Linked DNA regions of Homo sapiens: region 2 is linked to region 1. The links come from fine-mapping of genetic effects on gene expression. A gene starts in region 1. The other region holds a variant in brackets. All regions are shown on one strand. Distances are from middle to middle.

Region 1 (15,848 bases):
TGAAAAATTACATGTTTGTTTTTAATCAAGTGAACAGAATACCAAAGTTTGTATACCTAATTAACACATTTTAAATATCTGTTTAGGAAAAAAGTGATAGTAGCTCTAGCTCTATCACAGAACGACAACTCTTCATTTTGCAAATGTTTTCTAAGTGATGCTCAAATGAAAATTATTTCTCAGTTCTTTTGCAAATATCCATCTCATCTGCCAAACTACTGTGACTTAATAAGCAGTGAAGCAAAATTCTTCAACCTACAGAGATGTAGTTCATTTTTGTTACCTTTTTTCACCAAAATCCAACATTATTAGGTCATCCCTCAGTGAACTGGTCTGTTCCTCAACTATTCTCATCCTTTGCTGAAGTACTGTGAATGTTTCAGAAGCTGTAGCGTTGATGTGGGTTGGAGAAAGGACCGGTCTGGACACTGTAGTTTCCATATGTACCTAAGAATACAGTCACAATCTTAGTGTGGTAGGTCCTATTATTGTTCAAAAATAGTCACTGCCATTCCTGTGCCAGGATTAGGCATCACTGTCCTGTTGAACTCAGGAATGGTGATGTGTTCTGCTTTGGCCAATTAAATGTAGGTGGAAGTTATAAGAGCCAGCTTGTTCTTCACCATCTCTCTCTTTTCCCTCCCCTATGAGATGAGCAACATCCCAGGTAGGACTTTCTCCAGGCACTAGGATCCCACGGTGACAATGACATCAAACAGACCCACAACCCATTCATGATATACAGTGTGGATGTCATGACATACAATAAACCTATGTTGTTGTAAGCCATTAAGATTGTTGAGTACTTTATTTCATCATAATTTAGTCTATTCTATTTGCCACTATTAGTCACACACAAGGACCTATGACTTGCTGAGGGAATGGCTTTTATTACTAGCCATTTTCATCATAACATTATTACCATTCAACCTTCTTGAAAAACATTCTATACTTGGACCTCTGTACAGTTGCCATAAAATAAATGACTTACCAACTATGTATCCTGCATTGAAGCAGCATTTTAAAAAATAACATGCAACCTTAACTTCAGGCAAGAGCAAAGACCTTTCTACAGCTATTGACATCAACTTTCCACAGACTCCTCCCCCAAAACGCAATGAAAATAAATAAGAATAGTGAGAATACTTTCAAGATATTAGTGACAGAAGCAGAATTAGCTTATATGTGGTCACAACGTGTAAATGAATCACGTTCAATGACAAGGTAATTGGTGAAAACTTTAAAAACATTGTCCTGCAACTCCGTTCTCTGCAGACATTTCTCTACTAATCATGCTGTAAGCCTTAGCCATTTCTAGCGATAGTGTTCGTATGGGAATGTGTTCACAAGGGTCCAACTTGGGATATCAGGAATACACCTTTGTACCCACTTCCTATGTCATCAGGTATCTCCCTGACCCTTACCTTCCTGGAAGTGAAAGGGGGGTCCACCTCATGTTCAAGTTGCTGAAGGTGGTCCTGGGACCCAGGGCAAGAATTCATGAAGTGGGAGGACTGGTGGCAGGATTTAAGGGAGCAAGAATCATGGTGGGGCTGAGCTTGCTATACCCGCTGAGGATGTTTCTTCATCCTGAAATAGCTCTCCAATTCACTTTGTATCTTCTTCCCACAGGTTCCAGAAAATGGCCTATTTTTTTCTTTTTCGAGGCAGAGTCTTGCTCTGTCACCTAAGCTGGACTGAAATGGAGCGATCTTGGCTCACTGCAACCTCCACCTCCTAAGTTCAAGCAATCCTCCCACCTCAGCCTCTCGGGTAGCTGAGATTACAGTTATGTGCCACCATGCCCGGCTAATTTTTTTTTTTTTTGTATTTTTAGTAGAGACGGGGTTTCACCATGTTGGCCAGGCTGGTCTCAAACTCCTGACCTCAAGTGATCTGCCAGCCTCAGTCTCCCAAAGTGCTGGCATTACAGGCATGAGCCATCACGCCCAGCCTATTTTTCTTTTTACTCTTACTATGGTGTTTCTGACCAGAATTTTTCTTTCATGCCCTACTGTGAAACTTTTTTTGACACAAGCTTTTTGCATTCTTTAGATTTGTTGTTAAGTCAGCTTAAGGACATGGGGTGAAAGAAGCTCCCTTCTATTAATTAACTTTCATTTTTTTCAGTTCATTCCTGAAGGAAAGACAAAGACATGCAGATATTGATGCAGTCTCTGGACACGCAAAATATTCGAAGTGGGGCTCCTCTACATTTCTGGGAAAAAAAAAACTGATGTGGAGACTCCTGGTAATGTTACCACATGAGCCAGTATAGTATTCCTCAAGTAGTAAACGAAAGAGCCTCTGAGTAAGCCCGTCGGGCTGGATCAGCTGCCATAAACCAGGGCTGCAGTTGGTGGAGCCACCAACAGCACTGGGTGGGGAAAAAATGGAGGGGTAACAATGGAGAAACACCTCCATTCTATTTTCTGTCACCTGCTGTCCAGCTACTGACCTAGAGATAAATCATGCCAAAGATGGGGAGAAAACCTAGGGAAAGGGTGGCTAATAGGGTGTGCGCAGACACAGCTCCTTTGTCCTCTCTCCAAAAGAAGCAGAAAAGCTCATGACCCCAGCCTCGCCTCAGCAGGCACACTCATGTGATATATTCTGGCCAAAGAGACTTTGGGCAGAAGTTTGCAAAAGGGCTCCTAGGCAGACTTTTGTTTTTCTAGATTAAAAAAAGAGTAATGATGGCACCTGTCTTTTCCTACCCCCTTACAATTCCCAGAGCGTTCCATCAGTCAGGTATGCAGCAGCTCACTCTCAAATATAAACGAAGAGCCAAGGATCACCAGTGTCTGATAAACACAAGGAAAAGACAGAGAACCTCAGACTATGTTGACACTTGGGCAAAACCAGTAATCTTCAAACTCTGCTTATGTGAGATAAAAAACTTTTTTTTGTTTGTTTTAGTCACTTTCTTCTACATATAGTAGGCCCAGGCATTAGCTGGTGGAAAAACAAGTAGAAGGAAGAAGTAAAAATGACAAGCAGTGCTGGAGAGGGGAAGGGAGAACAATTTCTGTGGCAATTTATTAGACCCAGGTAGCTGGTTATAATATAGAGTCTTGTCTATGTTCATTTATATCAGAAGCCAAGCACATAATACTAATACTCATATTGCAAAAGTCTGTCTTTGGAAAAAAATGGAAATGGAGAAGCTCCCCCACATATTTTGAATAGGATGCAGATTCCCAACTAAAATTTTTTCATGTAATTGTTCAAATGTTTAGTTTTGTTGATATTTCCCTAAGGAACCTATGATCTGTATTAAATGCTTACATTGGCTCTCCAGGACATGTGTACATTCAGCCATGAAAACAAAACAGCAAATCATTTAAATTGCTTCACTTGTTTTAAAAAAAAGAAGGTCCAACATGTCGCGGTAGGAATTTGGTTTGCATCCACACTGAGTGCCACCCGACCCTGCTCTACACTGAAGCTTCTCAGGCTTCCATAGAGAAAATATACTTTCAAAAAGGAGCAACCAACTTGGCCCAGCCTCTGAGGGGAAGGAGGTTTATAGAAAATTCACCCTAAGAAGGGGGAGATTGAGGTGACTCGGACACTGATTGATGGTTGGCAGGGCACAAAGCTTTTGAGTGAAATACATGGTGTTGTCCTTAAAATATCCTCTTAGTCAATCGCTGAGAATCCTGTTCAGGTCATCAAAGTTGCTGAAACAAAAATTAAATAAGCCAATCTAGCCTTTGGGGATTTACTAAAAACAGATCTCATGGCCAGGCACAGTGGCTCATGCCTGTAGTCCCAGCATTTTTGAAAGGCCTATGTGGGAGGATCACTTGAGGCCAGGAGTTCCAGACCAGCCTGGCCCACATGGCAGGACCCTATTCTCTTCCAAAAATTTTTAAAAATGAGCTGGGCATGGTGGCCTGTGCCTGTAGCCCTAGCTACTTGGGAGGCTGACGCAGGAGGATCACTTGAGCCCAGGAGGTAGAGGCTGCAGTGAGCTATGATTGTGCCACTGCACCCCAGCCTGGGTGACAAAGCAAGACCTTGTCTCTAAAAAAAAATAAAAAATGAAAACAAGTCTCAGGGTTAGTTAAAAACCTTCCCTCCCAACCACCACCTCCACTTCCCGCCATGGGAAAACAAAAACAAAAACCAAACAATGCCAAGGTCAGGAGAGTCCTTGGAAGCAAGGGAGGGGGCGGTAATGGCTGAGTAGCAAGAGGACAGCCTTAAAGCCACCAGGCAGAGTCCCCGAGTATCTGGGAGGCTGTTAAAGTATGAGATAAGAACTTTCAATCCAGTAAATTAATCTACCAAGTTGGGGCTTAAAGTTAGAGAGAGATTCTCATTTTCACTGCAGTTGCTCATACCCTTGCCTGTCCTCCCCATCTGGTAGGCCCAAAGCAGTGGTAGCAGAAATGCCACCCACACCCCTACATACATAAATACACGCACACTCTCCAATGGCCACTTGGCAGATCCTCATAAGTCATAGTTCTATGGCTCATAGTCTAAGAAGCACAGTCTTACATGAAAACAATCTACCTCTAATGGCTGACATTCTAGCAAAGAGACAACAGCTTTAACATATCTGTGCTTTGTTGTGTTTGAAAAGGAGCAAATATTGATTGCTGCCTTGAACCTAAGTCCTAACGCTTGATAGTAACAATAATAAAAATACTGAGATATAAACTTTTATTTTTAAAAAAGTTCATTCATAACTAATTTCTATGCATATATTATTATCAAACTAACAGAATTCTGTCTTGATGTTTAGGGAGAATATTTCCAAAGAGCTTCTAGGCAGGTAACCTTATGGAAAGCATGGCAAGAAAAAGACCAATGTCACAAGTAATATACTAGTAAAAACCAGATGACTTTGAAAAGAGAACACATGCTTCTGTGGACACAGGCTCCATTCCTACACCTGGCAATAGGTGTACACTGGCAAAAGCGTATACAAGTACATGCTGTTGGTTCCAAAATAACAGTCCAGGGAGTCAATGTTGTTTATCACAACCACTAGAAAATAATATGGTAACACTGTCTTCATTCACTCACACATCTAACAAATATTTCCTGAACATTTACCATGAGCCACACACTGTTATAGGCAATGAGGCGGGGGGCAGGGGTTGGGTAGAACAGTACGAACAAAACTCCCTGCCTTCGTGGAGCTTATATTCCAGCTGAAGAAGACAGACACTAAGTAAAATACATAGTTTGTTTATTGGTGATAAGTGCAAAGGAGGAAAATGAAATAGGAAAGAACATGGTATGGAGGCTACAGGGCAGATTTTCATTTTAAACAGGGTGGTCAAAGAAGGCCTCATAACATTTGAGCAAAGACCTGTTATATAGATATCAGAGGGCAGAAAGGCCCAGAAGACGGAAACAGCAAGTGCAAAGGCCTGAAGTTAGAAGGTCTGATGAGTCCGCACATAATAAAGAGGTGGGTTTGGCTGGAGAGGAAGGAGTAACACAGAGAACATTGAGAGATGAGGTCAGACGGTAATAATAAAACCAGAATACGGCTGGGCGCGGTGGCTCACGCCTGTAATCCCAGCACTTTGGAAGGCCGAGGCGGGCAGATCAAGAGGTCAGGAGATCGAGACCATCCTGGCTAACACGGCGAAACCCCGTCTCACTAAAAATACAAAAATAAAAATAAAAAAAAAATTAGCCGGGCGTGGTGGCGTGCTCCTGTAGTTTCAGCTACTCGGATGGCTGAGGCAGGAGAATGGTGTGAACCCAGGAGGCGGAGCTTGCAGTGAGCTGAGACTGCTGCACTCCAGCCTGGGCGACAGAGCGAGACTCCGTTTCAAAAAAACAAAAAACAGAATACACAGAGCCTTGAAGGCCATTGTAGAAGTCTGGCTTTTGCTGTCAGTGATTCTCAGAGTCACTGGAGGTCTATAGCTGAGGAATGCTATCCAACTTTCCTTTTAACTGGATCATTTTGACTCCCTCCCACTCCAAATGGTGGAAGAACAAAAGCAGAAGTAGAGATGCTGCTGGCCAGAACCAAGGTGACAGCAGCGGTATTCCTACTGTAAGAAGTGGTTAGTGGTTAGATATACTTGAAAGATAGCTTTTGCTGATGCATTAGATATGAGATATGAGGGAAAGGAAGAAGCCAAGATTACTACAGGGTTTTTGGCCTGGATGGTGCTATCACTGAGACAATGCAAACTTATTAAGGAAGAATCCGTTTTGTGGAAAAGATAAAGAGTAGTTTTTAAAATGTCAAATTTAAAACATGAAAGATACCAAATACATTATTGAATTTGTGGATCTGAAGTTTGGGGGTGAGGTGTGGACTGGAGACTAATTTCTGAAGAGCTCAAGAAAACCATAAGGCGGGATAACAGAGAACACAAAGGATTAAAGGACCTAGTCCTGAGCACGCCAAGATTAACAAATTAGAAGCATGTGTTGGGGGGCATTTAAGACGGACTAATACGAACTTCTCTAAAGTGGGGTTAAAAATAGACATTTTTCTATCTTTAGAGCCTAATACAGTGCCTGGGAAATTATAGGTGGTAAATAAACAGGAGAATACTTCGACAGGAATTTAACGAATGTCTATTCCGTTCTAGCAAGAGCGCCAGGTACTGCGGAAACCGTAAAGAACAAGTGCAAATTCCTGACACCTATATTCTGGTAAGCAAGCCAGGGAGGATTAACTGGTGGCAAAAATCAAACATTAACGCCGAAATAGCCTTCCCAGGAACCTATTAAACTCCAACTTAACACATAAATAAAGGTGGTATTGGGCTTATCTGGAGGCTTCGGTGGCTATCTCCCATCCCTCAGCTGGAGCCAGGCCAATGCAAACTTCGCTCCTAAATGGCTTTCACCGGCAGCCAACGCCAAAGCGCCTTAAATCAGGGCCCTGAGGTCCAGGGAGTGAGACTGGACTCCGTCAGGACAGGGAGAGGGCGCCAGGGAGTGGTGACTGTCCTTATCTGAGCCGAAGCCTCGCGAGCCTCCGACCACCCCTCACCAGCCCGGGGCCCGGCAGCCTCACCTTACAGTCCATCTGTCCGCCTGAGGCTCCGTACTGCAGCAGGCGAGCGGGTTTCCGTGGAACTAACACAGCATTTTAAACCAACCCGCTCCCCGGCGCAGTAGCTCCGGTACGCAGGCGCACCCGTGGCAGGGCATGTCGGGAACTGTAGTTTTCCCGGCCCAGGAGGGCCCTCAGCCCTGGGCGGGACCCAGGCCGGCATCCGGCGGCGCTCAGGGAATGCGTAGCGCCGTGAACCGAATGGCGGCAGGCTCCACTGTGCTCGCGAGCGGGGCACGCCGGGATATGTAGTTTCCGGCGCCTGCCCTCCGGGGGGTCCTGTGCTGCCCACTTCACAGTGACTTGTCTCCGCCTGGTGAACTCGCGGTGTTCTGCTAATCTTGGTAAATACATACCCTACAGCAGAGTAACGAGCATAAAAATTGGTTAAAAATTCAGAGCTTAAACATTCTTCTCGTTAAAGGAAAAATCAAGTCCCTCTTCGTCCTCGTCCATGATGGCCACATGGAGAGTAAAACACAGAAATCTGTTTTCAGGTCTTTCGTCTCTTCAGCATAAATTATTTCTTGCCCTGTCTACAAGTTAATAGGTATTTGTAAATCTGAGTGTAAGTAGCTATGAAACGGAAAAGAGCATTGAGCTGTCCCTGGTTTTTTTGGTGGTTTGCTTTTTTGAGATAGGGTCTTCCTCTGTCGCCAAGGGTGGATTACGGTGGTGCGATCTCGACTCACTGCAGCCTCGACCTCCCGAGCTCAAGCGATCCTCCCATCTCAGCCTCCCCAGTATCTGGGACCACAGGCGCGCGCCACCACGTCTGGCTAATTTTTGTATTTTTTCGTGGAGGCGGGGTCATCACCATATTGCTCAGGCTGGTCTCTTTGGGCTCGAGCCATCCGCCCACCTCGGCCTCCCAAAGTCCTGGGATTACAGGCGTGCATCACCACACCAGCGTTTCTGAGTTGTTTTGCTTTAAGAATATGTATTCTCACTTAAGGGAAAGCCTTCTATAGTGCAAAGACGCGGCTTTGCGTTTTGGTAGCTGGACAGAACACCTGTTATCCCTGCCAGGGCAATTAAAATGCATTTCTCTCTTCTCCCTGAGAGTGCAGCCAAGAATCACTTCAGCCCTCTCATATAAGCAATCAGATCCGAGATGAGAGCTCATTTACTTAGCCTGACAATTGATCTTGCTATTCTAATTCTTTTCATAGCGGAGCCTCAATGTGAGATGCAGAGACTGCCCATCAAACCACAGCCATATTCATCAAGCTTTGAGCCGATCCGGTGAAGAGAAATGAGCACTGCATACATTATTCAGAGAAAGGGACCAAATAAAGCTTTTAATAGGAAATGAAAATGTATTTTAAAGCGTCAGTGCAAACAGCCAATTATTTTCATTATGTATGTTTTATCTTGCAATGACCTCTGGTTTATCAGTGGAATTAAGAGATGAGTGATACATGTATCCACGTGTTTTTGTGTAATGAGAGTTTTCACCTTCTCCTCAAATCTCCATATTAAGCAGCAGTCAGGGAACCAAACTGATTAAATTCGTGTTTTTCATTTGTTTTCCCTTATTCACTGTCTGGCAAACCGTATAAGAACTTAAGCAATTACAGAGTTAGAGAAAAGGACCTGAAGTCTTCAATAAACTTGAAATCAGGGAGTATAGTCCTCCAACTTTGTCCTTTTTCAAATTTGTTTTGGCTGTTCCTTTAACTTTCTAGTTCCTTTACCTTTCTCCCAAATTTTTTGAATCAACTTGTTGATACCTACAAAAATTCTGCCAGGATTTTGATTGAAATAATGCCAAACATACCGATTTTCTTGCTGATTTCCCTCTTGATTTTCAGTTGATAAATAGTTCTCAGACATTACCCCATTTATCAAACAAGATCATTTCATTCACGGAAATCCTAGATATTCCATGAAGACCACATTCTGTTTCACTGCGATAACCTCCTAACTGGTTTTCCTATTACCCCTTCCAAAGTATCCTTCATATGGCTACCAGATCTTTTAAAAAAGTAAATCTGATTATCTCAGGTCTTTGCTTAAAAACATTTAATCGTTCCCCCATTGAACGAAAAGTTTTCCATTGAGCAGGATGAAGACCAAACTGGTAATAGCTTCAGCCAAACCCTCCAGCCTACTCTGCACCTAGTGCCCCAGTGGAACTCTGAAGTCAAGCCTGCTACCATAGAATGTCTTTGTGCTTGCAGGTTATGCTCACTCTGCTGCGCACGGCCTTCCTCTTGTCAGTCTCACCAGCTCAACAGAAACTTAGCCTCTTCTGTGAAGCCATTCTATTCTCTCCCAAAGCACTTCATAATTGTCAATGTATCTTATTTCCCCTTATTTGAGCTGTAAGCTACTTAAGGACAGGAATTTGTTTTTTTCTTTTCAACACCAAGTACAATGCCCGGCACACAGTAGGGGTTTGGAAAGTTTTTGTTAGGTGAGTGAATGAATAAATTTTGAAACGGCTCTACTAATAGAGGCTGTGTTTCACTCTCTACTTGTAAGCCAGGAAAAGGCCTCCAAATAGAATATACGCTGCAGATGATTTGACATTGTAGTTACACGAATGGCAGTAAAGTTCCCTGCAACTACTTCCCCTTGGAGTTGGAAATGTATTCCGTGGACAAAGAAATGCAAACAGAACACCCAAAGTTTTCATATCTTGTTGGTAAAATAAAAGAATAAAAATGGCAAATTCACTAACTGGCTCCTCACCTTATGTGGGCAATCCAGATATTTTGGTAAAGTATTGGCTCTGGGTATAGAGATTAGGATTTGAAAGAGTCTTTGGCTTTTTAATGAACTGGTGAATCAGCCCAAGGCTGAGAAGATAATTCTTTTTTTTTTTTGAGACGGAGTCTCACTCTGTCGCCCAGGCTGGAGTGCAGTGGCTTGATCTCTGCTCACTGCAAGCTCTGCCTCCTGGGTTCACACCATTCTCCTGCCTCAGCTGGGACCACAGGTGCCCGCCACCACGCCCCACTAATTTTTTTGTATTTTTAGTAGAGACGGGGTTTCATCACGTTAGCCAGGATGGTCTCGATCTCTGGACCTCGTGATCCGCCCACTTCGCGTCTCCCAAAGTGCTGGGATTACAGGCGTGAGCCACCGCGCCCGGCCACGGCTGAGAAGATAATTCTATTAATTGAAATGGCCAAGGATAACAGTGCTTCTTATACGGTCTCTGTCACTTAGCTCCACCAACTAAATTTTATAGTCAGGTAGATTTTCACCTTGTTCCATTAACCAAACTTATGAATAAGGTCAAGGCTATGATGACACTGCTGCAGCTCTATTTTACCTTTCCTAAGATTAAAGTACTCTTTTGTACTTTATCATATCACCACATGATTCTGACTGTAACCTTTGGTGTAGTAGTTATATTCTCATTTTACTTATGAAGTAACTGACACCGGGGGAAGTTAAGTAACTTGCCTAAAGGCCATACAGCCAATAAGTGACAGAATGGTTATTTGGAGTTGGCTCTATCTCGCTTCAAAGCTTATGCATTTTGGTTAGACTCCATCTCCTACCATTCTCCACCCCATCTGACAGCAGTGGGGTAAGACAGAATTTTCAGCATCTAACTATTCAATGAGAAATATATGAATTAACTTCACACAATCAAATACCATGTTTATCAAAGAAAATAAGGAAATCCAGGTGGTGGTATGTGAGTATTTACTATGCCATTCTTACAAATTTTCTGTGTGTCTAAAATTATTTTCACAATAAAAATTTTTTTATGAGGAAAATGTCTATGTACTTATATGGAAAATTCTATAGGATATATTTTAAGTTGAACAAGTGAGGTATTGTGTAATGCCAGGGGGGATAAGAATTTTATATTTGTATAAATAAGCACTGGGAATATACAAAAGAAATAAAAGTACCTTTTATTACCTGTGTAGATAGTGTGACCATATAATTTTTCATCCAAACCAAGATAATGTATCTCTCCACATATCTAAGGTCTTCTTTGGTTTCTTTAATTAGTATCTTATAGTTTTCAATATATAGATACTATATTTTTTTTAGATTTGTGTTTAAGTTTTCCACTTTTTGTTACTAGTTTTTTTTTTAAATTTCAAATCCATTGTTTGTTGCTAGTACATAGAAATATAATTGACTTTTGTATTTTGAGCTCTTATCCTATGACCTTGCTAAACTCTCTTACTAGTTTTAGGACTAGCTTTAGAATTTTTTTCGTGTGTTATTTGGGATTTTTTTACATAAACAATTCTGACATCTGCAAATAGAGTTTTTTCTTTCCCTTTCAATCTGAATGACTTTGTTTTTCTTGCCTTGTTGCACTGGCTAAAACTTTTACTATGATATTGAATAGCAGTGGTGAAAGAAGGATGTCCTTATCTTGTTCCCATTAAGTATGATGTTAGTCATCGGTTTTTACAGTTGTCCTTAATCATATCCAGGCAATTTCCTTTCATTTCTAGTCTGCTGAGAGTTTTTTTGGAAAGAAATTTGAATTTGTCAAATGCCATTTAGATAATCATGGTTTTTTTCTTTAGTTTGGTAATCTGGTAAATTACATTGGTTGAGTTTTCCCACATTGAAACAATCTTGCATTCTTTGGATAAATCCCACTTAATCATTCTGTATTTTCCTTTTTTATATATTTCTAGACCCAATTTAATAATAATTTGTTGAGTATTCTTGTGTCTGTGTTTGTGGGGGATATTGGTCTTTCTTTTTCTTTTTTTTGGAAACAGAGTCTCACTCTGTCACCCAGGCTGGAGTGCAATGGTGTGCTCTCAGCTCACTGCAACCTCTACCTCCTAGACTCAAGCAATTACTGGGCCTCAGCCTCCCAAGTAGCTTGGACTACAGGCACTCACCACCACACCTAGCTAATTTTTGTATTTTTAGAAGAGAAAGGGTTTCACCATGTTGGCCAGTCTTGTTTCAAACTCTGGGCCTCAAGTGATCTGCCCGCCTCAGCCTCCCAAAGTGCTGGGATTATAGGCATGAGCCACCGCACCTGGCCTGGTCTTTATTTTTCTTTCATTATACTGGTTTTGCTATTAGGGTAATGCTAGCTTCATAAGATGCATGGGGAAGTGTTTCCTTCTCTTATAAATTCAGAAAAAGATTGTATAGAATTGTTATTGTTTCTTCCTTAAATGTTTTCTAGAATTTTGCAGTAAAATATATGGGCAGGGAATTTTCTTTTTTGAAAAGTTTTTAACCACAAATTCAATTTATTTAATAGTTGTAGAACTATTTTTTTTTTTTTTTTTTAGTGAGTGTAGGTAGCTTGTGTATTTTAATAATTGGTCTGTTTTATCTAAGTTGTTGGATTTATGGGCATACAGTTGTTTTTAGGACAGTAAGTCCTTAACATCCTCAGTACGTTCTTGGAAATGGCAACCTTAATTGAAAGTTTAAGGAAACCACTTTTATTATAGCCTAATTGATATAAATGACAGTTAGGTGCCTATGACATACTTCTGGTCACAAAAACATCACCAAATTTCTAAATAAAGACCAAAACACTTCTAATATTAAATATTGAAATAAATGAGAGCTATACATACATTTAAGACAGATTAATAGGCCAGGCACGGTGGCTCACGCCTGTAATCCCAGCACTTTGGGAGGTCAAGGTGGGTGGATCACCCGAGGTCAGGAGTCCAAGACCAGCCTGGCCAACATGGTGAAACCCCGTCTCTATTGAAAATACAAAAATGCCGGGCGTGGTGGCACGTGCCTGAAGTCCCAGCGACTGGGGAGGCTGAAGCATGAGAACTGCTTGAACCTGGTAGGCGGAGGTTGCAGTGAGCCAAGATTGAGCCACTACACTCCAGTCTGGACGATAGAGTGAGACGCGGTCTCAGAAAAAAAAAAAAAAGATTAATAAAAACAAGTAGGATAATTATTTACCCAGTTATCCCAGTTCAAGGTTGTGGGTGGCCAGAGCTTTTACCCAGTTATCCTAGTTCAGGGTTGTGGGTGGCCAGAGTCTATCCCCGCAGCTCAGGACACAGGGCAGGAACCAGCCCGAGGCAGGATGCCACCCTATCTCAGGGCACACACACACACACACACAAACATGCACACACATACACAATCAGTTACACGGGGACCATTTAGCTCAGCAGTTTACGTCACATGCACATCTTTGGGATTTGGGAGGAAACTGCAGTAACCAGAGAAAACCCGCAGACACGGGGAGGACATGCAAACTCTACGCAGTGTGCCATTAATCAATTTTTTTGTTAACCTCATCAAAGTTGAATGAAATGACACACTTTGAGGACTTCCTGTATTCGTTTTATCATTTTAATTTCTGTGGGGGTCTGTCATGATAGCCCCTCTTTTATTTCCAATATTGGTAATTTTTGTCTTCTCCCTTTTTTTCTTTGTCAGTCTGGCTAGAAGTTTATCAATTTTATTGATGTTTTAGAAGAATCTGTTTTGGTTTCATTAATTTTTTTCTATTACTTTTGTTTTCAAGTTCATTGATTTTTTTCCTCTCATGTTTATTAGTTAAACTTTTGAGAGTAAATGGGGGCACTATTAATAATTAAACCAAGAAAAAAGGCATAAACTGGAAATGTTCTTGGGAAACCACAATGTATGATCACTCCGCCTATAGGATATGTGACGGGGAGAAGAGAAGCAGATGGGAACCTTTGTGGGAATAAAACTTTACAGTGTATACCTTTTAGGATTACTTTGATTTAAAATCACTTGGAGTTTTTCCCCAGCTTTATTGAGACATGGTTGACAAATAAAAATTGGATATATTTTAAATATACAACATGATGTTTTGCTATATGTATGATATATGTATACATAGTGAAATGATTACCACAATCAAACTAATTAACATATCAATCATCTAACATAATTACCTTTATTTTATTTAATTTATTTATTTATTTATTTTGAGACGGAGTCTCGCTCTGTCGCTCAGGCTGGAGTGCAGTGGCGCCATCTTGGCTCACTGAAAGCTCCACATCCCAGGTTCACGCCATTCTCCTGCCTCAGCCTCCCGAGTAGCTGGGACTACAGGGGCCTGCCACCACGCCCAGCTAATTTTTTTTTGTATTTTTAGTAGAGATGGAGTTTCACCCTGTTAGCCAGGATGTTCTCCATCTCCTGACCTCGTGATCCGCCCGCCTCAGCCTCCCAAAGTGCTGGGATTACAGATGTGAGCCACTGCACCCGGCCTACCTTTTATTTTTTTAATGACAATACTTGAGATCTACTCTTTTAGCAACTTTCAAGTGTACATTATTATTAACTACAGCTATCTGATATGGTTTGGCTCTGTGTCCCCACACAAATCTCATGTTGAACTGTAGTCCCCAGTGTTGGAGGTGGAGCCTGGTGGGAGGTGATTGGATCATGCGGGTGGTTTCTAATGGTTTAGACTATCCCCTTAATGCTGCCTCATGATACAGTTCTTAGGACATCTGGTTGTTCAAAGTGTATGGCACCTTTCCCTTTGCTGTCTCTCCTGCTCTGCCAGGTGAAGATGTGCCTGCTTCCCCTTCAACTTCTGCCATGATTGTAAGTTTCCTGAGGTCTCCCCAGCCATGCTTCCTGTACAGCCTGTGGAACTGTGAATCAATTAAACCTCTTTTCTTCATAAATTACCCAGTCTCATGTGGTTTCTTATAGCAATGTGAGAATGGACTCATATACCATCATGCTGTACATTGGGTCTCCAGTACTTATTTACCTTATGGCTGAAGGTTTGTATCCCCAATATCTTCTTTTGTCCCCTTCTCCACAGTCTCTGGTAACAACCATTCTATTCTCTGCTCTGTGAGTTCCATTTTCTTTAAATTCCACATATACATTAGATCATGCAGTTTTGTCTTTCTGTGTTTGGTTTCTGTCACTTAGCATAATGTCTCCAAGTTTAATTCACGTTGTTGAAAATGGCAAGATTTACTTAGTTTTTAAGGCTTGATAATATTCCATTATATATGTATACCACATTTTCTTTATCCATTCATCTGTTGACAGACACTTAGGTTGTTTCCACATCTTGGCTGTTGTGAATAATGCTGCAATGAACATGGGAGTGCAGATACCTCTTTGACATACTGATTTCAATTTCTTTAGATACATACCCAGAAGTGAGATTTCTGGATCACATGGTGATTCTATTTTTAATTTAGTTGAGAAACTTCTATGCTGTTTTCCATAACAACTGTACCAATTTACATTCTCACAAAAAATGTCTAAAAGTTCCCTTTTCTCCACATCCTTGCCAACACTTGTTATCTTTTGACGTTTTGGTAATAACCATCCTAACAAGTGTGAGGTGATAGCTCAGTGTGAGGGGATATCTCAGTTTAATTTGCATTTTTTTGATGATTAGTGAGGTTGAGCATCTTTTCATATAGTTGTTGGACATTGTATGTCTTCTTAGGGGAAAGTGTCTATTCAGGTCCTTTGCCCATTTTTAAATTGGGTTATTTAGGGTTTTTTTTTTTTTTTGCTATCGAGTTTTATGAGTTCCTTACATATTTTGAATATCAACTCATTGTTGGATATGTGGTTTACAAATATTTGCCACCAGTTCATAAGCTGCCTTTTAATTTTGTTGGTTGTTTTCTTTGTTATGCAAAAACTTTTCAGTTTGATACTGTACAGTAGGTACATTTAGTTTTATTACTGTACATTGCTCATTTCTGTTTTTGTTGCCTGTCCTTTTGGTATCAAATCTGAAAAACTATTGCTGAGATCAATGTTGTGAAGTTTTCCTTTATGTTTTTTTCTAGGACTTTTATAGTTTCAGGTCTTATGTTTCGGTCATTAATCCCTTTTAAATTGATTTTTG
Region 2 (15,848 bases), 340 kb before region 1:
GTTTAGATCCCTGTATAAGTATCCCTCACTTAACACACTTAATGTGTTCCAGAATTAGTTTGCAAAGCACAAAAGCATTAAGCTAAAAGGCTATTAACATAAAAACATTGTGGGTAAAAGTACTATATGAATTGTCTCTTTAGCAAATTTCATCCTGAAGGTACATTTGCTGTAAAATATAAAGCACCAAGATAATGGCTGTGCCATTCATTAATTCTCAGGCACTCTAGGGAGTGATTGGAAATGTGTGGGCATTTGTAGTTGGCACAATGGCTGGGGGGTGGGCAGGGCTGCTACTAGAGTATTTATAGTTCCAAGCGCCAGGGAGACCAAATGTGCCACTCAACCCAGGGAATAACTGCGCCACTTAGAATGTCAATGCTCCTCTACCCCACTGCTCACCTATTTGCCTTTCTCTTGTTTCTGAATCATTTCTTCATCAATGTATTGCTTATGACACTAGCCATATTGCCTCATCTATTTTCACAAGGGATTGCATAAACATACTTTATATGCCCTCAGAACGAGAACTTACAAGGTTGAGAAAGAACTTTGGAAGGCAATGCTGAGCACATGTGCCCTGGTTATGTATTTTTCCAGGGGAGAAGATTTGCACAGATCAAGGCATCTTTAATTCCTTTGTTATCAAACCAAAATGTGGCCATACACATGTATATTTCTTGTCTTAAGCAAGAGGTGATTGTATCTACTTTCCCAGTGGGGGGAACTCCTGCTCACAAAGGTGGGGCACTTGGCCCACCGTCACATGGCAAGCTCTGACAACACAGTACTTCAGCCTCACAGGGTTCTCTAGGCACTGGTGGACACAATTTCTAGGATACTATTTTCTGCTTTTAAATGTCAATTTAATGAAGTACTGTGTATTACATTCTGGAAGAATTTTATAATTTTCAAAAGTAAAAATACTGAAGCAGTACTTTTAGAGCACAAAAAGCTTACCTGTGTTTGCATTGAGTTGAAAGTACCCAGCAAATTCGTGAACTTTATTTATATTTTTTATAGTTGGGGTTCCTAAGAATTACTAACATTTAAACTCAGATCCTAACCACAAGAAATTACCAGCTATGCAAAGATCAGAGGAGAGAACATTCTAGGGAGAGGAAAAGGCTAGTGCCAATACCCAAAGGCAGGAATGAGTTTGTTATGTTCTAGGAACAGAAATGGGGCCAGTGTGGCTGGAGACTCAAGGGAAAGGGAGGGTGGCAGAAGATTAACAGCGATCTCAGCCCAGACATAAAATTTTGTGAGCTGGGAGGAGTTTCTATATTTTTCTGAATGTGACAAAAGCCACTGGAGAAATGTAAGCAGAAAAATGGCTGTGGTCTGATTTTTTTTTTCTGTCATTTTTATTTTTTATTTTTTATTTTTATTTTAAGTTCTGGGGTACATGTGCAGAACATACAGAATTGTTACATAGGTATACATGTGCCATGGTGGTATGCTGCACCTATCAACCCGTCATCTAGGTTTTAGGCCCCGCATGCATTAGGTATTTGTCCTAATGCTCTCCCTCCCCTTACCCCAACCCACCAACAGGCCCTGGTGTGTGATATACCCCTCCCTGTGTCCATGTGTTCCCATTGTTCAACTCCCACTTATGAGTGAGAACATGTGGTGTTTGATTTTCTGTTCCTGTGTTAGTTTGCTGAGAATGATGGCTTCTAGCTTCATCCATGTCCCTGTAAATGACATGAACTCATTCTTTTTTATGGCTGCATAGTATTCTATGGTGTATATGTGCCACATTTTCTTTATCCAGTGATTTCATTTTTAAAAGATCACTCTGGCTGCTGTTGAGAGACAAGAGAGAGAAACCCTAGTGACCAATTAGGTAGCCACTGCAATAGCCTAGACAAGTAAATATAGTGGCTTGGATTGTCTGGCAACAAGGGAAATGAAGAGACTGTGACACATTTTGGATATGTCTTGAAGGTAGAGTTGACTGAATTTGCTGATGGCTTGAGTCAAGTAAACAGTAGAGTTTGGGGAAGAAGCCAGGGCTGGGATCATATGAAATTGTAGACATGTGAAAGTTGATTTGGAGTCATTCCTGTCCTACCCAATGAAAATGGAGTCAAGGAGCCTTTGTTGGGAAAGAGCACTCTGGTCACAAACGTCTTCCAAAAACTGTCTCGCAAGTTTACTCCAAGGAAACAGCCTGCTATGACTTCAAGGCGAACTTTACCTAGCAGTTGCTGCCACCTGCCAATCAGAGCTCACCAGCGCCCACTCTGCTATCGCCAATTAACTTTCTTTGAAAACAACTTACATCTTCTTTCTCCTTTCCCAATAAAACTCCAGCCCTTTCCTTTGTTCTTTGGACACACTGGAAACTGCCCTGGTCTCTGTGTGCATGTCCTTATTGCAAGCCTACTTTCTGTATATTACTCTCAAATAAAATCCTCTTGCTTAGAGATTTGTCTCTGCATATATATATATATATATATAATTTTTTTTAGTATTGACAAATGAGAAGAGATTCCCTCAGGAATAAATGATAGAAGAGCCCTGAACTGTGCACACTCCAGCATTTAGAGGTTAGGAAGGGGAGGAGGAGGATCTAGCAGCGAAGACAAGACATAATGGTCAGAGGCAGGAGGAAAACCAAGAGACCAAGATGTCCCTGAAACCTGGGAAATAAAGGGTCATAGAAGAAGGAGTGTCAGTGATTTCTATTGTCTCAATTGCTTCTGGGAAGTCAAATGCAGAGAAGTTGACCAATGGATTTGGCAAGATAGAGTTCATTTATGTATTTATTTTATTATTATTATTATTTTGAGATGGAGTTTCACTCTTGTTGCCCAGGCTGGAGTACAATGGTGCGATCTCAGCTCACTGCAACCTCCACCTCCAGGGTCAAGCGATTCTCCTGCCTCAGCCTCTCAAGTAGCTGGGACTACAGGCACACACCACCACACTTGGCGGATTTTTAAAAAAATTTTTAGTAGAGATGGGGTTTTGCCATGTTAGCCAGGCTGGTCTCGAACTCCCAACCTCAGGTGATCCACCTGCCTCAGCCTCCCACACTGCTGGGATTATAGGTGTGGGCCACCACGCCCAGCCTGGAGAGAACATTTTAGAGTAACAGAGGAGGGTTACTGAGTAGGATTTAGTACACTCAAGATTTATAATCATAAATCTAAAATGATACCAGTCATCCTGGTGGATTTTTTCATCAGATGTTTGGGTGTAGGCATAGAGTAAGAAGACAGTGGAATTTAACCTGGTATAGAGCTTTGCTAGGTAAGTCCAAAGGGAGAGAGGGTTATGGAACTGTGGTGCTTTTAATGGATGTGATTATGTAGATCATGGATTCTAAACTGGGTAAGGAAGAAAGTGAAAACATGAGGGAGGTGATGGATACTGAAAAAGTGGTAGTCAATGGGGGTCAGGATAAGACAGAATTATTGAATTGTAGCCCCAGAGTTGGTGATCTTGATGTGGAGTGCCCAAAGTAAAGATTTCACAGGTGGTATAGTTTTGAGGATGACAAAGCAAAGGATATAACCATGGGAGTGGGTGGTTGAGAATGACTGAAGAAAAAAAAGCATTGGATGTGAAGAAGTAAAAATCTGAGGAGGCCAACATGACAAATAGGAAAAGCTATTTATCATAGAATTGAAGCAAAATAAATGAGAACATTTAACTACTTCAAAACATCTATTATTCAGGTATTTTACTTTAAGTAGATGGATACTAAGAGCTGATTTACTGTCAGGCTGAAATTCGGTTCCAGGATTAGGATGAAGCTTTTAACAAAGTAAAAATGGTCAAGTGCATTTCTATTAAAAAACTAACCAAACCTTGGCTATGACAGAATGACAGGTTTTATGACCATATGGTTTAACCTAAATGTGTTTATGAGGCTCTCCAGAAAACATGACAGATGGCAAAGAGCTGCAGAATGAACAAAAGGAGAGTGTGGTTCAGACAACGTCTTAGTGATAACAATGAAAAATTGAATACTTCCCAGCGGGCCTTCTGCAGAGGACAAAAGACTGAAATTATTGGAATTCTATATTGCTGTTTAGGTGAAAATTAAATTTGCTTTAAAACATTAACTTTTCCTGAAAAATCTCAATTTTAAACTAAATAAATAGAAAGCTAACGGGTTTCTAATTCCCTTTTGAATTTCTTTTTTTCAGAAATGATTTATCCATTCCATGTTTTATTTCACATTCTTCTTCAGGCCTGAAATTTACTCCTTACTGTTTTATTATTACTTAAAACTTGTAAAAAATTTTGTTAGGAGAATGTTACCTGGTAATTTATTGATTTTCTGCTTAACTTCATTCACAAGGGTCTACCCATTAGCATGTAAATTTTGATTAGGCTGCTGAGCCCATTTCCTTTTGGCATCAGTGCTAAAAATGATGATAAAGGGCTCGGTTGGTGCCATCTGGGTGCTTGCATTGTGATGTTACAGCTAACACTAGAAATTAGATTGAGAAAACCAATTAATTTACTGCAATGTCATTCAGATATTGAAAAAGAAAAGCCTTTCAGAGTGCTAACAATAGTTCCTAGAGATAAGAACATATTTTCTAGTGTATATTAATGATCATTTTCCTTGCCGCCAGCCTGGTGATCTGAGAGTGTCCTGGATGGTGTGGAGCAGGGGACAGTGTTGCTAAGATGCTGGTTGTGACAAAAACCTTTAAAAACCTTTAAACTGCAAATAAAAATCACCTTATTGGCCGGGCACGGTGGCTCATGCCTGTAATCCCAGCACTTTGGGAGGCCTAGGTGGGCAGATCACCTGAGGTTGGGAGTTCGAGACCAGCCTGACCAACATGGAGAAACCCTGTCTCTACTAAAAATACAAAATTAGCCGGGTGTGGTGGCACATGCCTGTAATCCCAGCTACTCGGGAGGCTGAGGCAGGAGAATCACTTGAATTGGGAGGCAGAGTTTGTGGTGAGCCGAGATTGCATCACTGCACTCCAGCCTGGGCAACAAGAGCCAAACTCTGTCTTAAAAAAAAAAAAAAAAAAAAAAAAAAGTCATCTTATTAAATTACTCAGGCTGCTTTTTAATTGGGGTGAATAGTAAAAATAGCTGATGCTCACTGAGTGCTTACAATGTGCCAAGCACTGTTCTGAGTGCTTTACATCCTTAAAACAACCCTAGAAAGTAGATGCTATTCATTCTTTTTTTTTTTTTTTTTTTTTTTTGAGACGGAGTCTCGCTCTGTCGCCTAGGCTGGAGTGCAGTGGCGCGATCTTGGCTCACTGCAAGCTCCGCCTCCCGGGTTCACGCCATTCTCCTGCCTCAGCCTCCCGAGTAGCTGGGACTACAGGTGGCTAATTTTTTAAAATATTTTTAGTAGAGACGGGGTTTCACCGTGTTAGCCAGGATGGTCTCAATCTCCTGACCTCGTGATCCGCCCGCCTCGGCCTCCCAAAGTGCTGGGATTACAGGCGTGAGCCACCGTGCCTGGCGCCTGCAGATGCTATTCATTCTTACATCTACTCTAGAAGGTAGATATTATTATTATCTCAAGAACTCATGGCTAATTAGTGCCAGATCTAGGATTCAAATCTAGTCAAGTGGCTCCAGAATTAATAATCTTTACGACTATGCTATATCTATTTTGGAAAGAAAACAAAATGCTTGATGTTACTATTATTTTCTTTTTTGTCGCCTTTTTTTTTTTTAAAACAATATCGGATGGCCTTTCTTCAGGGTCTGTAAATATTGGTTACAACAGAGAGTTGGTAAACTATGGCCCATGGTTCAAAATCAGCAGCCATTAAAAAAGAAAAAAAAAAGCTCCATTGAGATATAATTGACATAACATAAAATTCGCTCTTTTAAAGGATACACGTTGATGGTTTTTAGTGATTTTAAAAAGTTATGTAACCATCACTACTATCTAATTTCAGAATATATTCATCACCCCAGAAAGAAAAACTGTCCCCATTAACAGTCATTCTCTATTCTCTCTCTCTCCCCATCCCCTGGCAACCAATAATTACTTTCTGTTTCTATGAATTTGCCAATTCTAGACATTTCATGTAAATGAAATAATACACTATGTGGCTCTTTGTGACTGGCTTCTAAGCAGAATGTTTTCAGGGTTCATACATGTCTTAATATATGTGTTAGTCTCTTCTTGCATTGCTATAAAGGAATACCTGAGATTGGGTAATTTATAAAGAAAAGTGGTTTATTTTGGCTCATGATTCTGCAGGCTGTACAGGAAGCATGGTGCTGGCAGCTGCTTCTGGTGAGGGCCTCAGGAAGCTTCCAATCATGGTGGAAGGTGAAGGGGGAGCAGGAGAGAGAGGGGAGAGGTGCCACACTCTTTTAAACAAGCAGGTCTCCTGTGAACTCAGAGCAAGAACACACTCATTATTTTAAGGACAGCACCAAGCCATTTATGAGGGATCTGCCTCCATGACCCAAACACCTCCCACCAGGCCCCCCTCTAACATTGGGGATTATAGTAATATTGCAACATGAGATTTGGAGGGAACAAACATCCAAACTGTATCAGCATATAGAGGTGCTTCATTTCCTTTTATAGTCAAATAATATTTAATTATATGGATATACCACATTTTGTTTATTCATTCATCAGTTGGTGGACATTTGGGTTTTGTTTTTGTTTTTTTACTTTTGAGCGATCATGAATAACTCTGCTATAAACATTTGTGTACAGACTTTTTTATGGACATATGTTTTGATTTCTTGTGTATATACCTAGGAGTGGAATTGTGTATATATCTAGGAGTGGAAATGGTAACTCTATGTTTATCATTTTGAGGACCTGCCAAACTGTTCCGCAGAGGCTGCCAAACATTCCCATCAGCAATGTATAAGAGTTCCAATTTCTCTACCTCCTTGCCAGTACTTCTTATTCCTCATTTATTTTTATTATGGCCATCCTAGTAGATGTGAAGTGATATCTCATTGTGGTTTTCACTTGCACTTTCCTGCTGACTAATGATGTCAAGCACCTTTCTGTGTGCTTATTGGACATTTGTATATTTTCTTTGGACAAATGTATGTTCAAATCCTTTGCCCATTTTTAAATCACGTTGTGTTTTTATTGGTGAATTATAAGCATTATTTATATATTCTGAATACAAGTCCCTTATCAGATACAGGATTTGCAAATATTTTCTCCCATTCCATGGGTCGTTTTTTCCTTTTCTCGACAGTATCCTTTGAGGCACAGAAGTCATATTTTTGGTGTCATATCTAGAAAACCACTGTCTACTTCAAAGTCATGAAGATTTACTCCTATGTTTTCTTTTAAGAATTTTATAGATTTAGCTCTTATACTTAGAATCTGTAGATCAATTTGGGAAGTATTGCCATTTTAACAGTATTAGGTTTTCTGGTCCATGAACATGGGATGTCTCTCCATTTATTTTAAGTCTTTCTTTCAACAGTGCTTTCTAGTTTTCAGTATACAAGTTTTGCACTTATTTTGTTAAATTCATTCCTAAATATTTTATTCTGTTTGATGTTGTTGTTAAGGGAATTGTTTTCTTAATTTTATTTTCAGATTGTTCATTGCCAGTATATAGAAGTACAATTGTTTTTTAAAAATTGATCGTTTATCCTGCAACCTTGCTGAGCTTGTGAACACTAATAGTTTTTCAGTGGAAAAACTATTCCTTAGAGCCCTCCCTCCCTCCCTCTCTTCTTTCCTGCCTTCCTTCCTTCCTTCCTTCTTTTGAGACAAGATCTCACTCTGCTGTCCAGGCTGGAGTGCAGTGGCATGATCATGGCTCACTTTAGCCTCGACTTCCTGGGCTCAGGTGATCCTTCTGGCTTCAGCCACCCAAGTAGCTGGGACTACAGGCGTGCACCACCACGCCCTGCTAATTTTTGTATTTTTTTGTGGCGATAGGGTTTTGTCATGTTGTGCAGGCTGATCTTAACTCCTGGGCTCAAGCAATCCACCTGTCTTGGCCTCCCAAAGTGCTGGGATTACAGGCATGAGCCACTGCACCCAGCTGGATTCCTTAAAATTTTCTACATGTAAGAAAAATTTTCTACATGTCATCTGCAAATAGGGATAGTTTTACTTCTTTTCCAATCTGTATAGGATGATTACTTTTATAGCTTTTATTACTTTTTTTGACTAATTTCCCTGGCTAGAACCTCCACTATAATGTTGAATAGATGTGGTGTGAGTGACATTCTTACCCTGTTCCTGATCTTAGGGGGAAAGAATCCAGTCTCCCACTATTAAATATAATTTTGGC[A/G]AAACCCAGTCTCTACTAAAAATACAAAAAATTAGCCAGGCGTGGTGGCTGGTGCCTGTAGTCCCAGCTACTCGGGAGGCTGAGGCAGGAGAATTGCTTGAACCTGGGAGGCGGAGGTTACAGTAAGCCAAGATTGCGCCACTGCACTGCACTCCAACCTGGGCGACAGAGCGAGACTCCATCTCAATATATATATAATATATTTTGTTTACCATGGGTTTTTCACAAATGTCCCTGATCAGTTTGAAGAAATTTTTTCTATTTCTAGTTTCTCGAGTGTTTTTATTAAGAAAAGGGGTTCAATTATATGTTCAGTCAGCTGGTATACATAGGATAAATCCTACTTGATCATGGTGTATAATAATTTTTATATGTTGTTGGATTCTATATGCTAATATTTTGTTGAGGACTTTTGTAACTATATTCATAAGGGATATCAATTTCTTTTCTTGATGTGTCTTTCTTTCTCTTTTCTTTCTTTCCTTCTTTCCTTCTTTCTTTCTTTCTTTCTTTCTTTCTTTCTTTTTTCTTTTTCTTTTTTTTTTTTGAGACAGAGACTAGCTCTGTCACCCAGGCTGGAGTGCAGTTGCACAATCTCGGCTCCCTGCAACCTCCAGCTCCCAGGTTCAAGCAGTCATGTCTTAGCCTCCTGAGTAGCTGGGATTACAGGTGTGTGCCACCACACCTGGCTAATTTTTGTATTTTTTTTAAAAAAAAAAAACAGTGTGACACCGTGCTGGCTAGGCTGGTTTTGAACTCCTGGCCTCACGTGATCCACCTACCTCGGCCTCCCGAAGTGCTGGGATCACAGGCGTGAGCCACCGCACCCAGCCCCTTTTGACGTATTTTTCTTGTTTTGGTGTGATGGTAACGCTGGCCTCAAAGAATAAGTTCAGAAATGTTCCTTCCTCTTCTATTTTGAAAAAGATTTTTATCATTCTGATTCTGTTTGAAAGTTGATAGAATTTACCAGTGAAGTCATCTGGTGTTGGGATTTTCTTTGTGGGTTTTTTTGTTTGTTTTTATTGCTAACTCAATTTCTTTACTTGTTAGAGATCTATTATCTATTTCTTCTTGAGTCAGTTTCAGCAATTTGTGTCTTTCTAAGAATTTGTCTATTCACACAGATGATCTAATTTGTTGTACTATACAATTTTTCATAGTATTCCCTAATCCTTTATGTTGCTGTAAGGTTAGTAGTAATGTCCCCTCTTTCATTTCTGATTTGACTAATTTGAGTCTTTTCTCCTTTTCTTCTTTAGTCGTGGTAGAAGTTTGTCACTTTTGCTGATTTTTCAAAGAACCAACTTGTGTTAATTTTCTCTATTGTTTTTCTGTTCTCTATTTCATTTATTTTTGTTATTTGTAATTAATCTTTATTATTTTATTTCTTCTGCTTACTTTGGGTATAGTTTACTCTTCGTTTTCTTTTTCTTTTTTTTTTTGAGATGGAGTCTCACTCTGTCACCTAGGCTGGATTGCAGTGGCATGACCTCAGCTCACTGCAACCTCTGCCTCCTGGATTTAAGAGATTCTCCTGCCTCAGCCTCCCAAGTAGCTGGGCTTACAAGTGTGTGTCACCATGCCCAGCTAATTTTTGTATTGTTAGTAGAGACAGGGTTTCAACATGTTGGCCAGGCTGCTCTCAAACTCCTGACCTCAGGTGATCTGCCTGCCTTGGCCTACCAAAGTGCTGGGATTACAGGCATGAGCCACGGCACCTGTCCTCCTTTTTTATTTTCTTAAGGTTGTTAGGTTATTGAATCTTAATATAAAATATTCTTTTTAAATATAGGTGTTTACAGCTATAAATTTTCCTCCTAGCATTGCTTTAGTTACATCCCAGATGTTTTGGTATATTGCATTTTCATTTTCATTGTTCTCAAAATATTTTCCAATTTCCTTTGTAACTTCTTCTTTGACTCACTGGTCATTAAGGAATATGTTGTTTTGGCCAGGCTCAGTGGCTCATACCTGTAATCCCAGCACTTTGGGAGGCTGAGGCAGGCAGATCACTTGAGCTCAGGAGTTCAAGACCAACCTAGGCAACATGGCAAAACCCCGTCTCTACAAAAAACACAGAAATTAGTCAGGCATGGTGGTGCACCCCTGTAGTCCCAGCTACTCAGGAGGCTGAGCAGGGAGGATTGCTTAAGCCTCGGAGATAGAGGCTGCAGTGAGCCATGATCATGCCACTGCACTCTAGCCTGGGCAACAGAGCAAGAGGCTGTCTCAAAAAAAAAAAAGAGTATGAGAGTATGTTGTTTAATTTCCACATATTTGTGAAATTCCCAAATTTCCATCTCGTACTGATTTCTACTTTCATTCCATATGGCAAGAGAATATACTTTGTATGATTTCAATACTTTAAAGTTTATCAAGGCTTATTTCAATGTCAACTTAAGAAAGGGCTTCACAGATAACATAAAAGTCTAATAACCATGGTGGGTCTCAGTGTAGAGATGTATGTTTAACGTCATGAAACTCAGTGGAGACTAGTTTAATAAATTATGGCAATAGAATGCAATAGGAAATCATGGAAGTTTTAAAAGGAATGATATGGTCTGTATATAAAGATATGTTATTAAGTAAACAAATAAGAATAGACAGTGAGTATAGTTTGCTGCCATTTGTGAATATAAACAAGCATGAGAGGGGGATACACATATAGAGAGAATATTCCCTTATAGGCAATAAGGAAACTGTTACCAGTGTTTCCTCTAGTGAGAAGAACTGGGAAAACCAGGGTTAGGGATGAAAAGGAGACTTATTTTCACTGAATATCCTTTGATGTTGTTCAAAGATTTTTTTAAATCTCCGGTTCATGTGCATCCTTTGCGTGGGGAGATACTGTAAGCAGAAGTAATAAATTAAAAGATTGATATATTTGATTATATAAAAATGTGAAATTTTGGATGGTAATATCATCATAAGCAAAGTTAAAGTCAAATGATAGAAAGGGAAATATTTTTAATAAAAATGATAGTTTAAAGTTTAATATCTATAATATATTAAGAGATTGTATAAAGTGATAGGAAAAACACAGAAAACACAATTTTAAAAATAGGAAAAGGATATAAATTAATACTTTACAGAAAAAGAAATCTAAATATTCAAAAAGTATATTTTATAATCTCAACATCAATGATAGTCAGGGAAATCCAAATCAAAGATAATGGCATACTATTTTTCACCCAAAATATTGAAAACAGTGATAATAAATGGTGCTGGCTGAAAAACAGGAACTCTCCTACAGTGGTAGTGGGTATAGGAATTGCTCCAATGGGGGTAATACTTTATTTCATCAAATCTAAGATAGCAATTGAAGGATGCACCTTTATTTTATCTAAGGAAGAAAAACACTGCCAATTAAACTATGACACAATGCTTTCTGCTCTTTAATTATAAGATGCATCCCAATTTCAGGGATGCTAAATGTGAATGATAAAATCTGGTAAGATTTCAATATCCATTAACATTAGAATTATACATACCCTTTCAACAAGCACTCATACTTTAGGGAATCTATGCTGGAGAAAGAGAAATAAGCAAGGTGATATTTAAGATATTTAACAACTAGTATGATGCAGATACCTACCAATCAGAAAAAAATCCTAATCAAAAGAGACACCGACTAGTAGGCCTGCCCCTAACATTCTCAAGTCCTGGGCAGGCTACAAATATAGACTTGCATATCAGCTATTATATACTTAAACTTTGCTGTAAATTCAAGCTAAAAATCTGTTAAATCAAATATGTTCTATCACCATATTTTGACAAACATCCCTTCATGACAACCTGCAAGAACTATTCAAATTTAAAATTATTGCCCTGGCCAGGCATGGTGGCTAACACCTATAATCCCAGCACTTCGGGAGGACAAGGTGGGTGGGTCACATGAGGCCAGGAGTTCGAGACCAGCCTGGCCAACATAAGGAAATCCTCTCTACTAAAAATACAAAAATTAACCGGGCGTGGTGGCACACGCTTGTAGTCCCAGCTGCTCAGGTGGCTGAGGCATGCGAATTGCTTGAACCTGGGAGGTGGAGGTTGCAGTGAGCTGAGATTGCACTACCATACTCCAGCCTGGGTAACAAAGCGAGATCCTGTCTCAAAAAATAATATAAAATAAAATTATTGCCCTTCTCTGACCATGGTAGCACTGGGAAGGTAGCCTCCCATCTTCAACCTGTGGCTCATGACTCACCCTCATTGTCTTCCTACTCCTATCCTCCTCCCTCACTGAGAGGAGTCTTGCATGTAGTCATACAAACCCCCAGCCTGCATGACCAAGCTCTGTCTGTACCCTCAAACACTCCTTGGCTACACTTGAGGCCTAGAGGTGTTTGCAGTGGTGGCGCAGGCTTCCCTCAAGAGGACAGAGCTGGGATAGAGATCCATGCAAGCCTGTAAGTGGGCTCAGGACCTCTGAGTAGGCTATTTCATCATCTTGGGTATAAAACTAGTCAAAAAGGGGGTCACAGACTACAATTGGATGCATCCCCTTTGGCTCACAGACTCCTTGCCCCATGGGGAGAGCCTGAACTGGAGGAGGGCCAGGGCAATTGTCTTCTAGCAGGGGGCCCAGGTCTAAGAGTTTTACTAGCAGGGGGCCCAGGTCTAAGAGTTTTACTGCTAGCCAGTATCCTCTTCTGGTATGTATGAGTTAAATATTACTCCTTTAGAAAAGTAGAGACACGCATGCCAAAATGTTTATTGCATTTTTTGGTAGTAGAAAAAACTCAAGAAAATCTTAATGTAATTCTAGTATATCCCTACTATGAAAAAAAATGCAGCTGTTAAAAATAATTAATGTGGGGCATGGTGGCACATGCCGGTACTCCCAGCTACTCAGGAGACTAAGGCACGAGAATCACTTGAACCCAGGAGGGGAAGGTTGCAGTGAGCCGAGATCGCACCACTGCACTCCAGCCTGGGTGAGAGACTGAGACTCGTCTCAAACAAATAATAATAATAAAAATAATAATAAATGTGGTTAAGAAATATCAAGTATGGTTTGAAAAAGCAAGTTGCAGTTAAATGTTTATGGTTGTAATCTCAAATGATATCAATGAAAAATTCACATATTGTTTATAGGTGTCATTTTGTATGATCACAAGCAAAGTTATGTCAGGACCTACTCTATAATGTTATAGGAAGAAAGTATAAGGAATGGTAAAGTTGTAGTTAAAGGGAAGATGTGCATGACATAATGTTAAGTGAAAATATAAAATGTAGAATTAAAATTGGTTTATATGCAAAAAAAATATGCAAACATTGAATATGCCTATGGACAAGGGCTATAAGATAACATAGAAAAAATTAAAATATTGGCCAGTCGTGGTGGCTTATGCCTGTAATCCTAGGACTTTGGGAGGCCGAGGCGGGAGGATCACTTGAGCCCAGGCATTTGAGACAAGTGTGAGCAACATGGCAAAACCCCGTCTCTACAAAGAATACAAAAAATTAGCCAGGTGTGGTGGCATATGCCTGTAGTCCCAGCTACCCAGGAGGCTGAGGTGAGAGGACCACTTGAGACCAGGAGGTAGAGGCTGCAGTGAGCCCTGATCACACCACTGCACTCCAGCCTGGGCAACAGAGTGAGACCATGTCTCAAAAAGAAATATTGATTTAATCAAGTGACAGAATCTCAGGCAATTTTTGTTCTGAATTTATGCTGGTTGTTTTTGCAATAAAGATTTTTTTAAGAGACTGGAATGCATAAATAAGGATTGGGGGGGTGGGTAAGTCAATCATTCTACTTAATGCTATGTTAATACTGTTCAGTAGAACCAGTTCTAAGCTCCATAGCTAAAGAGTAATGAAGAAAACTTGGAGATGCTCCAATAAGAGCCATCAAAATATTAAGAATTTAAGAATACACAGTTTTAGGAAGAGTAAAAGGAACTGAACTCAAACAGCTTAAAGCTTCCTTCAACTGTAAAACACGGAGATTTGACTCAGTAATTTCTCATATCCTTCCAGCTCTAACATTTTTTTTGTTCTGAGACTAGATCCGTTAGTCAACAGAGAAACTGCCAACTACCCACAGCATCTGAAACAGTGAACTCAGCATATGAAGATGCTGAGGAATAACCATGGTTGAAGGCTGACTGCATCTTAGTCCTTCCATCATAAGAAGAATTTCTTCCAGACAGAAGAGGTTAAGGAGATGTGCCCATTCTCCTCTGAGCAAGAGAGTAAACGGGCTTTAACCGCAGCATGACAAATTTAGGATCATGGAAAGTTATCTGAAAAAATGTAGTAAATGTAGAGTTAACACAAGACTGATTTTAAAGTCCCCCTATCTCCACTTTAAAATTTTGAAGTCCCTATTAGGGGGATCTTAAAATTACTGAGTCAAATCTCCATGTTTTACAGTTGAAGAAACCTTTAAGCTAAGTTCAGTTCCTTTTATTGTTCCTAAAAGGATATATTCTTAAATTCTTAATATTTTGATGGTTCTTATTGGAGCACCTCCAGATTTTCTTCATTACTCCTTAGCTGCGGAGCTTAGAGCTGGTTCTGAACACTATTAACGTAGCATTAAATAGAATGATTGATTTACCTCCCAATCCTTATTTATGCATTCCAATGTCTTAAAATAAATATTTATTGCAAAAACAACCAACATAAATTCAGAACTAAAATTGCCCATGATTCTGTCATTTGATTAAATCTACCATTAGCCATGTAGATGGTATATCACTAGCAATGTAGATGCCACTAGCAATGTAGCTGGTATATCACTTTCTGTTGTAATTATGTGATTACATCTGTGTGATAGAGATAAAATGTTCTGTGCCAATGCTCCTCATCCCCTACCTCCTTCCTGCCACATACCAAACGACAGTTTGTTTGTCAAATTCTGGATTTTTTTTTTCTGGAGTGGAAGAATAAAAAGTGGTATAAAAACAGGAATGAAAATGAAGAAGAAAAATGCAAGGGTCTGGTGAAAGCAGCCAAATCTATGAACAAATGGAGAACTCAGAGAAAGGGTCTTGCCACCAGGGTGGGAAAGAGTTTGGGAAGATTAGCACATGAGAACCTCTCGGTAATCAAAGTCTCTAAATATGACAAATTGAATTGAGACTCCTTTCATATTCTTTGAGAAGCTAAATAAATATTGAAGTATATTTTAAATTAGCATTTGGAAACTAAACTGGGTTTCCCACAAAGAGACTAAGCCATGTGGGTCCTAGGTTTTATTTAGGTTACATGTATCTGTTGCCTCCCTTTCTACTCCACACATATTTCTTCAGTACCTAACACAGTGCCTGAATGATTCAATAAGTGAATGTATGAGTGGCACATATGTATAAATAAGTTGTATCTGGTTCCTTCTGAGAAAATTCCCAGGTTTCAAAATCAGTATTAACCAACATTTCCAGGTGATGTCACTTTGCTGAATATTTAAGCACTAATGGTCCTTGAAGCCAGGCCAGCAGATGAGAGGACTGCCTACAGGTTGAATATAGACAGGGGGGCCTGCGTGAAAGCTCAAAATGGAAAGACAATAGTAAAAGTGATGCAATTGTGGCAATAGTTAAGATGATAGCTATTAATGTGACAGCCAAGAGAAAGACAAGGCAAAGGCTTAAGAGT

Which allele goes with the higher level. Alleles are on the strand shown, and positions count from the first base shown. SD is a standard deviation of normalised expression in the study named.
For the expression in NK cells of the gene that starts at base 7,073 in region 1, G is the low allele of the variant in region 2 and A is the other (large effect, 1.0 SD a copy in Schmiedel 2018).

Evidence for each region. PIP is the estimated chance that this variant, and not a neighbour inherited with it, causes the effect. A credible set is the group of variants that fine-mapping cannot tell apart.
Region 2: its variant is the best candidate, but not a certain one, in a credible set for the expression of CCDC150 in NK cells (Schmiedel 2018, PIP 0.77).

The regions. Positions count from the first base shown.
Region 1 is chr2:196,630,940-196,646,787 of GRCh38, reverse strand. CCDC150 (coiled-coil domain containing 150) reads right to left here and starts at 7,073. Exons shown (of 28, transcript NM_001080539.2): 1 at 7,010-7,073; 2 at 284-447. The coding sequence starts at 7,021. It overlaps LOC105373823 (a long non-coding RNA gene), which reads left to right and starts at 7,103. Exons shown (of 2, transcript XR_923747.3): 1 at 7,103-7,392; 2 at 8,221-8,360. RefSeq lists enhancers at 6,212-6,749, 6,750-7,287, 7,272-7,321, 7,342-7,561.
Region 2 is chr2:196,968,730-196,984,577 of GRCh38, reverse strand. It overlaps a transcript of ANKRD44 not described here. Among named protein-coding and RNA genes, the nearest start is that of PGAP1, 50 kb to the right of the region's middle. The variant A/G (reference allele first, on the strand shown) is at 8,244.